Linked DNA regions of Homo sapiens. The protein of the gene in region 4 purifies or fractionates together with the protein of the main gene of each other region. This does not show direct contact. Each region holds a gene or a part of one and is shown on either strand. Other genes may lie near its edges.

Evidence for each region.
Region 1: the proteins of ADI1 (region 4) and PGK1 fractionate together in Homo sapiens (co-fractionation; one large-scale study listed by BioGRID). This does not show direct contact.
Region 2: the proteins of ADI1 (region 4) and TRAPPC9 purify together in Homo sapiens (affinity purification with mass spectrometry; one large-scale study listed by BioGRID and IntAct). This does not show direct contact.
Region 3: the proteins of ADI1 (region 4) and TRAPPC10 purify together in Homo sapiens (affinity purification with mass spectrometry; one large-scale study listed by BioGRID and IntAct). This does not show direct contact.

Annotation. Positions count from the first base shown.
Region 1 is NC_000023.11:78,110,457-78,114,247, reverse strand, and holds part of PGK1 (phosphoglycerate kinase 1), read right to left. Parts: intron 505-3,791; coding exon 349-504; intron 233-348; coding exon 88-232; intron 1-87. UniProt on the Homo sapiens protein: Catalyzes one of the two ATP producing reactions in the glycolytic pathway via the reversible conversion of 1,3-diphosphoglycerate to 3-phosphoglycerate.
Region 2 is NC_000008.11:140,374,245-140,378,035, forward strand, and holds part of TRAPPC9 (trafficking protein particle complex subunit 9), read right to left. Parts: intron 1-3,791. UniProt on the Homo sapiens protein: Functions as an activator of NF-kappa-B through increased phosphorylation of the IKK complex. May function in neuronal cells differentiation. May play a role in vesicular transport from endoplasmic reticulum to Golgi.
Region 3 is NC_000021.9:44,102,518-44,106,308, reverse strand, and holds part of TRAPPC10 (trafficking protein particle complex subunit 10), read right to left. Parts: intron 3,532-3,791; coding exon 3,337-3,531; intron 3,017-3,336; coding exon 2,778-3,016; 3' UTR 1-2,777. UniProt on the Homo sapiens protein: Specific subunit of the TRAPP (transport protein particle) II complex, a highly conserved vesicle tethering complex that functions in late Golgi trafficking as a membrane tether.
Region 4 is NC_000002.12:3,512,684-3,516,766, forward strand, and holds part of ADI1 (acireductone dioxygenase), read right to left. Parts: exon of another isoform or gene 2,227-4,083; coding exon of another isoform or gene 2,125-2,226; intron 1,294-2,124; coding exon 1,174-1,293; intron 1-1,173. UniProt on the Homo sapiens protein: Catalyzes 2 different reactions between oxygen and the acireductone 1,2-dihydroxy-3-keto-5-methylthiopentene (DHK-MTPene) depending upon the metal bound in the active site.

The DNA.
Region 1 (3,791 bases), on a different chromosome or scaffold from region 4:
AATAAATGAGCTTTCTCTATTCTTCAACCACAGTCTCTTACAGACTCAGGCCCTCACCCCCAATAATGTCAAAATCACAGGTCCTACCTTGTTCCCAGAAGCATCTTTTCCCTTCCCTTCTTCCTCCACATGAAAGCGGAGGTTCTCCAGCAGGATGACAGACCCAGCAGCTGGGTTGGCACAGGCTTTCTCCACTTCTGGGCCTACACAGTCCTTCAAGAACAGAACATCCCTGAGAAGAGGAAGAGATGAAGACACTTGAGCAGTATGAAAGTTAAAAACCAGTAACAACGTGCTTGACAACTTCCCCCGCCACAAAGTCTACCAGCACCAGAGCCTGGCACTTACTTGCCCAGCAGAGATTTGAGTTCTACAGCAACTGGCTCTAAGGAGTACTTGTCAGGCATGGGCACACCATCAGGCCGGCCTAGGTGGCTCATAAGGACTACCGACTTGGCTCCATTGTCCAAGCAGAATTTGATGCTTGGGACAGCAGCCTTAATCCTGCAACCAAAGAGAGACAACAAACAGAATGAAGTTACTCCTAGAAATTAGTGGGAACTAGCTTATTGATAACCTCATAAAGCATAAAGCTCCTTTTCTTCTCCAAGTTCCTTCAAATCTACTATCAGTAATTCAATGGTGGTCCTTAAGAAGTTAAATGCAATGCCAACCCTCCACCTAGGATTGTACAATCTCATTATGTATCTGCCCCTTTCACAGACAAGAGTTAACACAGCAGGCCTGAGGCTACTATCTACAGAAGGACCTGTCTGCAAGATTAGATCCTGGCTGGTATCTGGGAACTTGGCTTTCAAAGTTAACTGACAAGACCAACAAGGGCTATTCACTCTTCCTAGACCGTCTATACAAACATGGTGATTTATGCTGAACACCTGCCCCACTCTAGAAGTCTAGAATTTTTTTTTTCTTTTCCTTTTTTTGTTGAGACAGGGTCTCACTCTGTCACCCAACAGGCTGGAGTGGAGAGGCACAATCTCAGCTCACTGCAGCTTCAACCTCCCCAGGGGCTTAGGTCATCTTCCTACCTCAGCCTCCCAAGTAGCTGGAACTACAGGAATGCACCACCATGCCCAGCTAATTTTTGTATTTTTTGTAGGGGTTTTACCATGTTGTCCAGGCTGGTCTTGAACTCCTGGGCTCAAGTTATCTGCAGGCCTCAGCCTCCCAAACTGCTGGGAATACAGGCGTGAGCCACCACACCCAGCAGAAGTTTGTAATTTTGGTAGTTGCTAGGCAGAGGATCCCTATGTTACCAGTTCCCAACAAAAATCTTGGGATCTGAGTCTCTAGCATGCTTCTCCAGGCAGAAACACTGCAGACAATTACTGCATTTTTCACTGCTGAAGAAAGGAAAACACTTGATGTGTCCCCTCACAGGAAACTGGAAGCCCATGGATTTCTCTAGACTCCCCCATGTCTTTTCCTCTTCCTAATCTTGTCATGCATTCTTTCACTGTAATAAACTTTAGCCATGAGAACAACTCTGAGTCCTAGCAAATCATCATGAGATATGTGGGTGATCTTGGGGACCCCTGAAAACACTTCTTATATGACTATGGAAAATACATAAAATTCTCAAATCTTGAAACCATCAAAGGAAATTTGGGGAAAAATAAAAAACATGTAGTAACTTTTCTGCACCTATTAATAGATCCTAAGTCACTTTTTTATGTAGGAAAAAATAATTGCACTGTCTAGAGCTTGGTTTCCATAATGTATCACATTCATTACATTATAAATTAATCAAAAAATTAACTCCCTTTAAACATTTAAAAGTTTTGTTATAAACCTGCTACTAACTTGCCATTTTGCCAGTTTATAAGAAATTAAAATTGATCAAGAAAAGCATTTATTTATTCATCAAATATTTATTGAATGCTTCTTTTGTGCCAGGCATCATTCCAGGTTCTGAGAATGAAACAGAAAACTTTTTTAAAAACTCTCTGTTCTCATGGAAGTGAAATTCTAATGGAGAGAGACAATAAACATGTATGTGTGTGTGCGTACATGTAATATATCAGATGGTGAGATACAGAAAAAAAACAAACCATTGTTCCCCATTTTTGTTCCCCTACTTTTGAGGACAAAAATGACCGGGGAACAATGGTAGAGGAGATTTTTAGACAGGATGGCCAGGGAAAGTCTGATATGATGACATCTGAGCAAAGAATGGAATGATTAAAAAAGTTATACTTTTAAAATATCTTATGTTATTAATATTTAGCAGATATAAGAACTCCTTTATATCAAATTTAAAAATCTGTATCAGGTACAAAGTTTGTGCAATGGAACCAATTAGTTTTCAGGACTATCCCTTATCAGCAAGTTTTATTATTTCTAATGCTTCATTTTGTTAATCAACTCCATGGATTTCCGGAAATGAAAAGATTTCCAAACATGTTTCTTTACTCTTAAAATAACTTGATAGGCATATTTCCAATCGTTTCTGTGTGTTGCACAATAATGAAGATCAAGCGGGATCAGATCTGCCTTATACAAAGACCCTGCCACTATGGTACAGCAGGGATGTGCTTGGCAAAATGACAGGCTCTATTCTAGGACCAATACCTGAAAATGTTCTGGGCTAGACCTGCACTGTCCATTACGACAGTCATTTAGTCATGTGTGTCTGTTGAGTACCAGATATATAACTAGATCAAATTGAGATGTGCTGTAGTATAAAAACACATGCCAGATCTTGAAGACTTAGTACCAAAAAAGTTAAATGTCCCTTTAATTTAATTAACACAATTTGGCTCACATTGTATTTCTATTAGATACCACTGGTCTAGATCATTAGAAAGCACCTTGCCAACACAAACCCTTCATTTAAAATTTAAAATAGGCGGAGCACAGTGACTCATGCCTGTATTCCCAGCACTTTGGGAGGCCAAGGTGGGCGGGGTCCAGGAGCTCAAGGCCAGCTTGGGCAAAAGGGCAAAACGCTGTCTCTACAAAAAAAATATGAAAAAGTAGCCAGGTGTGGTGGCCCACGCCTGTGGTCTCAGCTCCCTGGGAGGCTGAGATGGGAGGATCGCTTGAGCCCAGGAGGCAGAGATTGCAGTGAGCCAAGATCGTGCCACTGCACTCCAGCCTGGGCGACAGAACGAGGCCCTGTCTCAAAAAAAAAAAAAAATTAAATAAAAACCTTCTTGATGGATACCCCATTTAACCTGATGTGATTATGTATTGCATGCTTTTATCAAAATATCTCATGTAACCCATATATATATATATATAAAATCTACAAAAATTAAAAATTAAAAAAATTAAAAAGAAAGTAAAGACAAAAATAAAGACCTTTTATAATCTAGTCAAAAGCAAGAGCAGTACTCTCACTTAAAATTTGTTTCTGAATCTAGGATCCAAGACACTGGAGCAGCTAAACTGACTGAAAACGTACTTCTGAAGTCTTTCCTGTTTGTTTTTTTGGAAGCAAAAACAAATGAAAATTCTCAAAAATTGACTTATCTGAGCCATTTGAATGGGGGCTTGTAAAACTACATATAACCTTAGTAACTACTGGTACTTTTAAAATCCTTCTCTTACATAGTTCTTCATTTTGCAAGAGAAGCCAAGTAACCTTAAATTTTTATATTTTTTGTGTGTGTTTTATAGAGATGGTGTCTTACTATATTGGCCAGGCTGTTCTCGAACTACTGGCCTCAAGCAATCCTCCTGCCTCGGCCTTCCAAAGTGCTGGGATTACAGATGTGAGCCACCGCACCCAGCCAACTTTTATATTCTTTAAAAATGAATAACTCTGC
Region 2 (3,791 bases), on a different chromosome or scaffold from region 4:
CAGGGACGGGGTGGAAGAGGACTGTAAAGAGGAGGCAGGGGTTGGCCGGGCGCAGTGGCGCACACCTGTAATCCCAGCACTTTGGGAGGCCGAGGCAGGCAGATCACCTGAGGTTGGGAGTTCGAGACCAGCCTGACCAACATGGAGAAACCCCGTCTCTACTAAAAAATACAAAATTAGCCAGGCGTGGTGGTGCATACCTGTAATCCCAGCTACTTGAGAGGCTGAAGCAGAAGAATTGCTTGAACCCAGGAGGCGGAGGTTGCAGTGAGCCAAGATTGTGCCATTACACTCCAGCCTGGGCAACAAGAGTGAAACTCCATGTCAAAAAAAAAAAGAAAAGAAAAGAAAAAAAGAAAAAGAAGAGGTGGGGGTACTTAACGCCTTCATCACAAATCTGGAAATGCCCAGACCTTCAGCTGCACCCACTATGTGCCAGACATGATCAAAGATGTTGGGGCAGAGAAGGGGGCAGAGAAGACGAATACTGATCTTAGCCAGTGCCTGTAAAGAGGTCACCATCTAAAATAAAGGTGACAGCCGGGGAAGGTCACATGCCTTGGCCACCAATGCGTTAGAACTCCCATTGATTCTTTCATGGAACCTATCTAAGATGAAAGGTTGTAAATAATACTATGATCAGTAATAATATTACTTCATTCCTCTTATCATTTCAGTGTAATAAGAAGTCAAATGATAAATACTACATTGCAAATGGAATTGACATCACTTTAAAGCCCTAAAACGGTTCCTTAATGGGAAAAGCTCGAGCGCAACTGCTTTTGGGCACTAGGCAGACAATTGACTGAGAAGCCATGAGCCCAGAGAGCCTCAGGACAAAGCCATGTTTGGTCGACACAGGCACCTATGGCACAAGGAGCCGGGGAGTACAAAATGGTCCCTGGCAAAGCTAGGCCAAGATCCTCAGGAAATCTTGAAATGAGATGAAATCCCCAAACTCATTTCCAACCTGCTGCTCTTTTAGGGCATATTAATCAGCACATCTTTGTTCTAATCTTTCAATAGGCTGCACAGTCACGAAGTCCAAGTTCAGGGCCCAGATGTTTATGTGAGGTTCCAACGAAAGTGGCTCCAAGACTACTCAAGACAAGGAGCTTTATTCACAAGGCAGACTCTGAGGGATCCAAATATTAACTCACCATTCCATTTCCAAGTAGAAAGTAAGTTTAGACCTGCTTTATTCTGTTAATAAGAAATAAAGTGACAAGATCAGAGGGAAACTCCAGACACAGGACTTGTCTCTGGCAGGATGGAGAGGGAGGAATACAGCCTGGAGCTGTAAAGTCCTGAGTTCCAGGGCCACATCTGCATATCCCTAAGAAACAGGGATCATCAAATCTAATTACGATTGTCAAAAAGACTCAATGAAATAATGCAAACACTGAGCATAAGCCTAAAACTCTCAGTGAGTGTTCAAGAAACAGAAATATCACTGTTAGTTAATGCCTTTGACACCACAAGTTCTAACCCCAAGTTAACCAGCCACTGATGCTCTAGAAAATGCCTTAACCCTCATCAGCCTTCTCAAACGTGGGCACTTGCAGTGATCAGAAGAACAAGTCAGTGACAGATGTGTAGGGGCAGCCTGGTGGCCGCACTCAACTAAATGATGACCGTGGGAGAATGCCGGATGGGAAACAGCAGGCCCCACACATTCCCAGGTTTGAAAACACACTCTGCTCCTCTCTCCGGCTATTTCCAGCCATAATTACATGGAGAGAAAATACATCTTCAAAATTATACAAACTTTCCATATATGTCTATCAAAAAAGTTTGTTAAAAACATAACCTACTTTCTCATATCCCGGAGTAGGGGTATGAGGCATGCACCAAGGATTTTCCTTTATAAAGCATCTGTCTAAAGTAATTGGATCCATTTTCAGTTTTAATCATTCAAAAGTAAGAATGAAAACAAAGCAAAACAAAACAAAAACTTCAATAAGACCTGGTCCCTCAAAACTTCATGAAGTAGTAGAGGAGATAGGTCCATAAAGAATCACAGTGTTGGAGGCCGGGCGCGGTGGCTCACGCCTGTAATCCTAGCACTTTGGGAGGATGAGGTGGGCAGATCACAAGGTCAGGAGATCAGGATCATCCTGGCCAACACAGTGAAACCCCGTCTCTACTAAAAATACAAAAAATTAGCCAGGCGTGGTGGCAGGCACCTGTAGTCCCAGCTACTTGGGAGGCTGAGGCAGGAGAATGGCGTGAACTTGGGAGACGGAACTTGCAGTGAGCCGGGATTGCGCCACTGCACTCTAGCCTGGGCACAGAGCAAGACTCCATCTAAAAAAAAAAAAAAAAAAAAAAAAAGAATCACAGTGTTGAGGCCAGGCAACGTGGCTCATGCCGATAATCTCAGCACTTTGGGAGGCTAAGGCAGGCAGATTACCTGAGGTCAGGAGTTCGAGACCAGCCTGGCCAACATAGTGAAACCCCATCTCAACTAAAAATATAAAAATTAGCCGGGCGTGATGGTGGGTGCCTATAGTCCCAGCTACTCAGGAGGCTGAGGCAGGAGAATCACTTGAACCTGGGAGGTGGAAGTTAGCAGTGAACCGAGATCGCGCCACTGCACTTCAGCACAACAAGAGCGAGGCTCCATCTCAAAAAAAAAAAAAAAAAAATCACAGTGTTGGGAAGAAGATGGATGGAGAGATGGCTGAAACAGGGATGCTGTGCCCTATGCCTTGGACAGATACCTGGAAGGTTCCTAGACTACCAGGTATACCCACCACATGCTAGAGGAAGGACACTTTGTAAACAGTCAGTGCCCTTGTTGAGTGCACCATCCAAAAGAGATGGCCAAGCAAAGTCCGCGCTTGACCCCTGATCACCTCAGTTCCAGCCTTTGATTCATTCTTGGATAACCTGAAAAACCCACTCCTTTGGCTTCAAGAAATACTGCCTATTTTACCATCTTTGGGTTTAGTGAGCAAGCGAGTTCATGTGTACTTTAAAGATGATTTGAACTCTGACTACAGCTTTTCTCCACATTCATCTTTCCATACCAGAGTTCTCAGTTTCTTTTTTTTTTCTTCTCTTTTTTTGAGACAGAATTTCACCCTTGTGGCCCAGGCTGGAGCGCAGTGGCGTAATCTCGGCTTACTGCAACCTCTGCCTCCCAGGTTCAAACAATTCTCCCGCCTCAGCCTCCTCAGGAGCTGTGATTACAGGTGCCCGACGCCACACCCGGCTACTTTTTGTATTTTTAGTAGAGACAGGGTTTCGTCATGTTGGCCAAGCTGGTCTCAAACTCCTGACCTCAGGTGATCCGCCTCAGCCTCCCAAAGTGCTGGGATTACAGGCATGAGCCACTGCACCCAGCCAAGTTCTGAGTTTCTTTAAGTCTGTTCTCCATAAAATCTAGTCCCTCCAATGACAACTCATGCAGCCTGAAATTAAAAGCCAATTAAACAAGACCATACACAGCTAAAACGTCCCCCACCCCCCATCACTCCTTTCCTAAACTCCTCTCCTGCCTGTCCGAAATAGACTAATGCCTTCCGCACTACACTACAAAACACTAATGATGTGTTGTCAGATTAGATGGACACGGTGGTGCACACCTGTAATCCCAGCTACTTGGGAAGCTGAGGCAGGTGAATCGCTTGAACCCGGGGGGCAGAGGTTGCAGTGAGCCACGATCACGCCACTGCACTCCAGCATGAGTGACAGAGCAAGACTGTCTCAAAAAAAAAAAATACTTTGGGATACTTAAATGAGACCTTGGGAGAGAGGCAAAGGCAGTGTATTTGGGGTCTAACATC
Region 3 (3,791 bases), on a different chromosome or scaffold from region 4:
AATGTAGAGAAAGGAGCATTTTCATGAAAAATAAAATTTAAAAACCAGGTAGGATTTATTTTAAAGAACACAGTTGAAAGTAAAACATTTACATCAGCCCAGTTTGCCCTTTTGTAAAAAGTAGTATAGCTTTTCATTTTATATACAAACCTGCAGTGTCTGATTTCATTTTAAAACTTAATTTTAAGCACTAAAGAAAATTTGAATAGAAGCCTGTGTGTATTTTCTCTGCTAATTCTGTATGGGATATCTGGCATCTCCACTAAGAGTAATTAATACAGGATCTGACCTTCCTAGGCTGTGCTGACAATGGAACTGTTGTAGGTAAAGTCATTTTCAGATTAAATACAACAATTTCCACATTAGAATCAGAAGAGTTATAATTTTTCCAATCATAGGACATCCCATGAAATTCACAAAAATTATAACTTATTTTATTTTCCATTTGACAGTATTTACATGTTCCACAGATATTTGTAAAACGGCTGCAAATTCCTTGCTTTTCAGATACACATTGCATATCTGGCTTCACAATTATTTAACATCTCTTTATCAACAAAACCAGCTTGTCTCAAACACATACACCTTACTTTAGATAAAAACAATAAACATCCAATTACAGTTACTCTTTTAGGACTTTTATGATGAACATTAAGAAAAAAATGACAATTTTGGGTGACATTCTTCTTTGTCTTAAAGAGGCAGAAGCATTCATGTAACATAGTTTGCAAAAGATCTTTTGGGTAATTAGGGGGAAAAAAACTGATAAATTTGATTTCATTTCATTTCCAGGCAATTAAGCGCCGTAAACATTTTAAATTTCCCCTTCACTTTCTTCCTCTAAATATATATGTAGTTGGATAATTTCATCCTGGGAGTAGAACCAGATACAAGAAAATCAAACAGTAATAAATGAAACATTCCCTCTTCCAGAAGGTAAGAGAGAAAGCTACATTACACTGGGGAAGGCTCCCAGGCTGACGACACGGATTACAGTCTCTTCTGACGGAATCAAATCTCCCATCTCTTTATTCACAGGACTTGGTAGAAATGCAGGGCAATCGTCAATTTTTACAATAAAAAACCTTATTTTAGAAACCCTAAACTATCATTAGATTCTGAAGTTCTAATTTGCTAACTAGTTTGACCAAGTTTGTTAAACTGCACATGAGGAAGATAAATTTCTGGAAAGTTTAATTACACAATTATTTATCTTCTTTACACGTCTCCAGTTTCTACAAATGAAAAAGACAGGAGGAAAAAAAAATCACACCACCTTTATTTATTGAATGAGCTAAAAGACAACACAGAGAATACTGGAAATGACGGCTGTCATATTTCCCCGGTCTGTGCCTCCTTCCTCCCATGCCCCACCGCCTCCCGCAAGCACAGTGCTGGGCAGGAACCCGGTGCTCCTTCTCTCCACAACTTGCACATCCACGGGGATTCACACGAGGGCCACCCACTGCTGGACCCGACTCTATCTGCTTGAGCTAATCTTGTCAAGTTCAATTCCAAGCACATTTGCCCAGTAAATTAAGAGTACTCTATTTCAAGTGTACAAAAATACATCGCTTTGGAGAACTGGAAAAGGTTTAATACATACAACACTTATTTACAAGCTGTGACTTTCACACCTGTAAAAACAAACACACTTATTTTTGTCCTTGATTTTTGGTGCAACTTATACATAAACATTACATCAGTTAGTCTGTATTTTTAAAAATAATAAATCAACCATATGTACAATTAAATTTACAACCGAAAGCAAATAATCCATTGGAACAGTGTGACTGCAACTCAGTAGACCAGTGGAGGACATTCCAGGACTTGAGTCCTTCCCTACAACCAGACCAAAAACACACTGAGGACCTCTCTCATCCTCACGATGGAATATCTTAATTTCTAAGACTTAAGATGCAAAAGAAAAATAACGATTATACAGCTACAATTACATGTAAAGACTTTAAAGGGACAGAAAAACAACATATTAACCCCCACATATATAATGATCATTAAATTAAATATATTTAACTCCCAGTGCATATGATATTCTATCAACATTATGGGGGACCACAGGGTTCCAGAAACATTTATCCCTAAACCACCTCACCGCTGAGGCGCTCCTCACAGCCGGGTCTCAGCTTTCTTCAGTACCTTTCACGTGGCTCCGGCTGATGGGCCTCCAGGTCCCCCAGCTCCGGCATCCCAAGGCACAGAAGGGGTTATGATCCCTCCCTCCCCCACCCGCCTCCCCTAGAAGGGTGTTATTCTAGAAAAGCACAATGAGAGGATCTGCGGTAAACGGCTGTTTTACCCCTTAGGGGACACAAATCCACCCCGATCAGGAAACTGGGCAGCTGTGTGACCAGAAAGGCACACACGTCACTAAGACCGTGAGGGCTGCTGAGTGTCTACCTGAAAGACAAATGGCCTTCCACGAAGAGCCAGCAGACGGAGGCTGTTCCGTGGAGACAGCGTGGGTGGAAACTTTCATGAGCAGCGTGTGAGGTAGGGGGAGGGAGGCCAGGGCTCTGAGTAAGCGGCGTCGGACACCAGCATGGGGACGGGGTGAGAAAAGCAGGAATCTGAGATCACAGGCGGCATGAAAACAACAACAGAACTCAGCTGGCCAGCTGCGTGATGACACTCTCTGATGTCCCCACGGCCAGGCAGGACCACTGAAGGTCTGGCTGGAGCCAGAACGGAAGAGTCCAGTCACAGTCCCATAAAGTGCACTCCTAGCTGGGAAGTGGCGTGTGTTCACCCTGGCGTTGTCATGTTACACTGACTTCCAGGACGTGGTCATCTTGGCTGGGGATGACCAGGACTTGTGTGCCCGAGCTGGAGTTGAAGACCTGGCCGGCCGGCAGTGCCTGCAGCCGGGGCATGGGTAGGCCTTTGTGCTCGCTGCTGCAGGCCGAATGCACGCTGCCCCTGCTCTTGAGGCTGCTGCTGTCCGGCTGGTCGTCCCCGTGCTTGTCTACTGACAGGCTGTCGTTTTCTATCCAGCTGTCTGCAAAACACACAGGAAGTTAGACCCAAGCTGCGCCGACACTCACCTGGGGACGGGCAAAGCCACACGGAGCCAGGCTGAACGTGCAGAATGCCACCCGAGGCTGCCCCTTTACAGAGCACTCTGTGCACAGAGGCTTGGCTTTCAGAGCAGGTGCCTAAGATTCTAACAGCGGATGAGGCTTCTAGTACCAGTTTCTACCGGCACTGAAAACACGCCGCTAGTTCTCCAACCTGCTCAGTCATAAGTTTATCACCTCTCGCACAAAGTGCTCACCTGCTCAAATACTGAAGGTAAACTTTTTCTTCCAAAGTCCTTACCAGCGTCCAGTTGGGAGGAGTGTGCAGAATGATGGGGGAGGTACTTGAACAGCCTGACGTCGGGCAGGGGGAGATACCCGGCGAAGAGCGGCATCACTTCCATGTGGACCCTGTGAGTGGCCCGAGCAGCCACTGGCATGGAGATGACACCGCAGCTTTTCCCACACACTGCCCAGTTGCTACTGTTGTCGACAACTGAAACGAGAGGAAGCGATGTGTCATCCAGGACGGGCCTTCCAGTACTCAGGCGAGAGTCACGGCCGTCGTTACCCAATCCTCTCACCCAACGCTGTCTGACAAAACACTGCGGACACAGAGCCCAGTGCCTTGTAGCTGCGCCTGAAGATAAAGCCATGCACTTTCACGGTGGCAACCCCTATTTCATTGAGTCCAATTTCAATTAGTTCTGGATTAGAATGAATTATGCTGGACGTGTACAGAAAACTGCATTTTTC
Region 4 (4,083 bases):
GTCTGTTGCAGGGTAGAAACCCTCATGGAGAACCTCTACTATGACAGTGCAGAGGGGAAATGTGGGATTGAAGCCCCCTCACAAAGTCCCCACTGGGGCACTGCCTAGGAGCTGTGGGAAGAGAACCACCATCCTGCAGACCCAAGAATGATAGATTCACTGGCAGCTTGCACCCTGCACCTGCAAAAGCTATAGGCACTCAAAGCCATCCCATGAGAGCAACCTCAGGAGCCCCTGCAAAGCCACAGGGACAGAGCTGCCTAAGGCCTTGGGAGCCCATTCCTTGCACCAGTGTGCCCTAGATGTGGGACATGGAGTCAAAGGGTATTATTTTGGAGCTTTAAGATTTAGTGGCTGCCCTGCTGAGTTTTGAACTTTCATGGGTCCTGTAGCTCCTTTCTTTTGACCAATTTCCCCCTTTTGGAATGAGAATATTTACCTAATGCCTTTACCCGCTTTGTATCTTGGGAGTAACTAACTTGTTTTGATTTTGCAGGCTCATAGGTAAAAGGAGATGAGTATCAGATGAGACTTTGGACTTGAACTTGGGACTTTTAAGTTAATGCTAGAGGAAGTTAAGACTTTGGGGGACTATTGGGAAGAGATTATTGTATTTTGAAATTCAAGAAGGGCATGAGATTTGGGAGGGGCCGGGGCAGAATAATACAGTTTAGATTTGTGTCTCCACCCAAATTTCATATTGAAATGTAATCCCCAGTATTGAAAGTGGGACCTGGTGGGAGGTGACTGGATCATGAGGGTGGATTTCTCATGAATAGCTTAGCACTATCTTCTTGGTGCTATCCTCACTACAGTGAGTAACTTCTTGTGAGATCTGGTCATTTAAAACAGTGTGGCACCTTGCTCTCTCTTTCATTCCCACTCCTGTTATGTGAGAAGCCTGCTCCCTCTTTGCCTTCTGCCATGTAAGCTTCCTGAGGCCTCCCCAGAAGCAGATGGTGGTGACAGGAAGCACATGCTTCCTGTAGAGCCTGCAGAACTGTGGGCCAATTAAATCTCTTTTCTTATAAATTACACAGTTTCAGGTATTTATTTATAGCAAAGCAAGAATGGCCTCATACAGACATTAAAAGAAAAAAGAAAGAAAATATTGCGTCTATTAGTAGTGAATATAATGATACTTCTTTTCCAGGTAATCCAGGGCTCCCTTACCTTTTCTTCATAATTTGGTAGTTTATCTTTGCATATGGTTATGATGTCCATCCAGGAGTAGTTCCTCTCTCTTCGGATCTTTTCTAATTCTGGATCATTCTCATATTTGTCAGCATCCAGCTAAAAGAGTTAACCCACCAAAAACAAGAGCTCAGATTAACAAGGAGATGTAGAAACATTCTCTTTCTGGATCTCCAATATGATTTTATACTCCAAATTTATCATTTGTTATTTTTTCAACCCTCAACTAACTCTCTTCATCTCCTCTAGCCATTTAATGGATTTTCCATTCTCCAAAACACCAGCTATACATACAATGGAGTTCTGTTTGATTTCTGCCTCCCTTCTCTGCAACAGTCCATCCCAGGGGATTCTTTTTCCCATTTTGAGATGGTAGTCTCACCACCTCAGGCCTTTCTGTCCACTCCACAGGTCCCTCACTGTGCCCTGTTTCTCTGCCACCATCCCACTCATGAGTCTCATTGATCCTCAATGCCATCTCTTTGGTCAGTTTGTTTCCATGAGCCAAAACATTGTATGCTCTCACAGCTTGCAAATAAAACTCAAGTTAATTAAACTGGAATGAGAAACCTTCTATCATCTGGCCCCAGCTGACTTTTCTACTTCTATCTGTTCCCATCTCCTACTTTTTAAAGAACTCTACATTCTAAACCAAATAGGATGATCGGCTATCTTAAAAATATTTGATATTTCACATCCCCACAACCTTGCTCATGACAGCTTTCTATGCCTAAAATTCCCATTCAACATTTTCATTTATCACAATCCTATCTCTATTAAGGTTCAGTTTTACTGTTCCTTCCTGACGAAGCACTTCCCTGATGAAGCTCCAGGCAGAATTCATCTGAACTCTTATTTAAAACTACTGGCAGTGAATCTAGCACACTTTATGTTTTGCAATAAACTGCACATTATATCATCACTACTTACTGAACAACAAACTCCAGTGTTGCAGGAAGTCAGGGACCCCGAATGGAGGGACCGGCTGGAGCCATGGCAGAGGAACATAAGTTTTGAAGATTTCACGGACATCTATCAGTTCTCAAATAATACTTTTATAATTTATTATGCCTGTCTTTAATCTCTTAATCCTGTTATCTTCGTAAGCTGAGGATGTATGTCACCTCAGGACCACTGTGATAATTGTGTTAACTGTACAAATTGATTGTAAAACATGTGTGTTTGAACAATATGAAATCAGTACACCTTAAAAAATAAAATAACAGCGATTTTTAGGGAACAAGGGAAGACAACCATAAGGTTTGACTGCCTGCAGGGTCAGGCAAAAACACCCATATTTTTCTTCTTGCAGAGAGCCTATAAATGGGCGTGCAAGTAGAGAAGGTATCACTAAATTCTTTTCCTAGGAAGGAATATTAATATTAATACTCTGGGGAAGGAATGCATTTCTGGGGGGAGGTCTATAAACAGCTGCTCTGGGAATGTCTGTCTTATGCGGTTGAGATAAGGACTGAGATACGCCCTGGTCTTCTGCAGTACCCTCAGGCTTACTAAGGTGGGGAAAAACTCCACCCTGGTAAATTTGTGGTCAGACCAGTTCTCTGCTCTCGAACCCTGTTTTCTGTTATTTAAGATGTTTATCAAGACAATATGTGCAGCACTGAACATAGATCTTTATCAGTGGTTCTGCTTTTGCCCTTTGCCCTGTGATCTTTGTTGGACCCTTATCAGTGGTTCTGCTTTTGCCCTTTGTCCTGTTCCCTCAGAAGCATGTGATCTTTGTTAGACCCTTATTAGTAGTTCTGCTTTTTGCCCTTTGAAGCCTGTGATATTTGTACCTACTCCCTGTTCTTACACCCCCTCCCCTTTTGAAACCCTTAATAAAAACTTGCTGGTCTGAGACTCAGGCGGGCATCACGGTCCTACCGATATGTGATGTCACCCCTGGCGGCCCAGCTGTAAAATTCCTCTCTTTATACTGTCTCTCTTTATTTCTCAGCTGGCCGACACTTATGGAAAATGGAACCTATGTTGAAATATTGGGGGTGGGTTCCCCCGATACTCCAGAACATATTAAAGTACTAGTCATCAATACGTTATTTTCTACAAAGTTGACTCTAAAACTTAGCCTATCCACTGCATGATATGCACAGTACTATTTGCTATGGTCTGAATGTGTCCATATTATGACACATAATATGTAATATGACACATTATATGACACGTGTCATAAGTTTAAATATACGAATGTTGAAACTTAACACAAATGTGATAGTATTAAGGGGTGGGACCTTTAGGATGTGATTAAGTCATGAGGGCAAGCCCTCATTTATAGGATTAGTGGCCTTGTAAGAGAGATGGAGCTGGGCACTGTGGCTCACACCTATAATCCCAGAACTTTGGGAGGCCAAGGTGGGCAGATCACCTGAGGTCAGGGGTTCAAGACCAGCCTGTCCAACATGGTGAAACCCCATCTCTACTAAAAATACAAAAATTAGCCAGGCATGGTGGTCCACGCCTGTGATCCCAGCTACTCGGGAGGCTGAGGCAGGAGAATCACTTGAATCCAGGAGGCAGAGGTTGCAGTGAGCCAAGACTGCGCTACCAGCCTGGGTGACAGAGCGAGGCTCCATCTCAAAAAAAAAAAAAAAAAAAAAAAAGAGCAAGAGAGATGTAAGAGAGCAGTTTGCCCCTTCCACCACATGAGGACAGAGCAAGGAAATGGCCGTCTATGAGGACAGGATCCTCATCAGACACTAAATCTGCTGGCACCTTAATCTTGGACTTCTTAGCCTCTAGAACTATAAGAATTCTATAAATTGCTGTTGTTTATAAATTGCCCAGTTTAAGCTATTTTTGTCATTTTGTTATAGCAGCAGGTATTTAGTTTATTCCAAGCTAAAATAATCTTCCAATTGTTTGTATGTA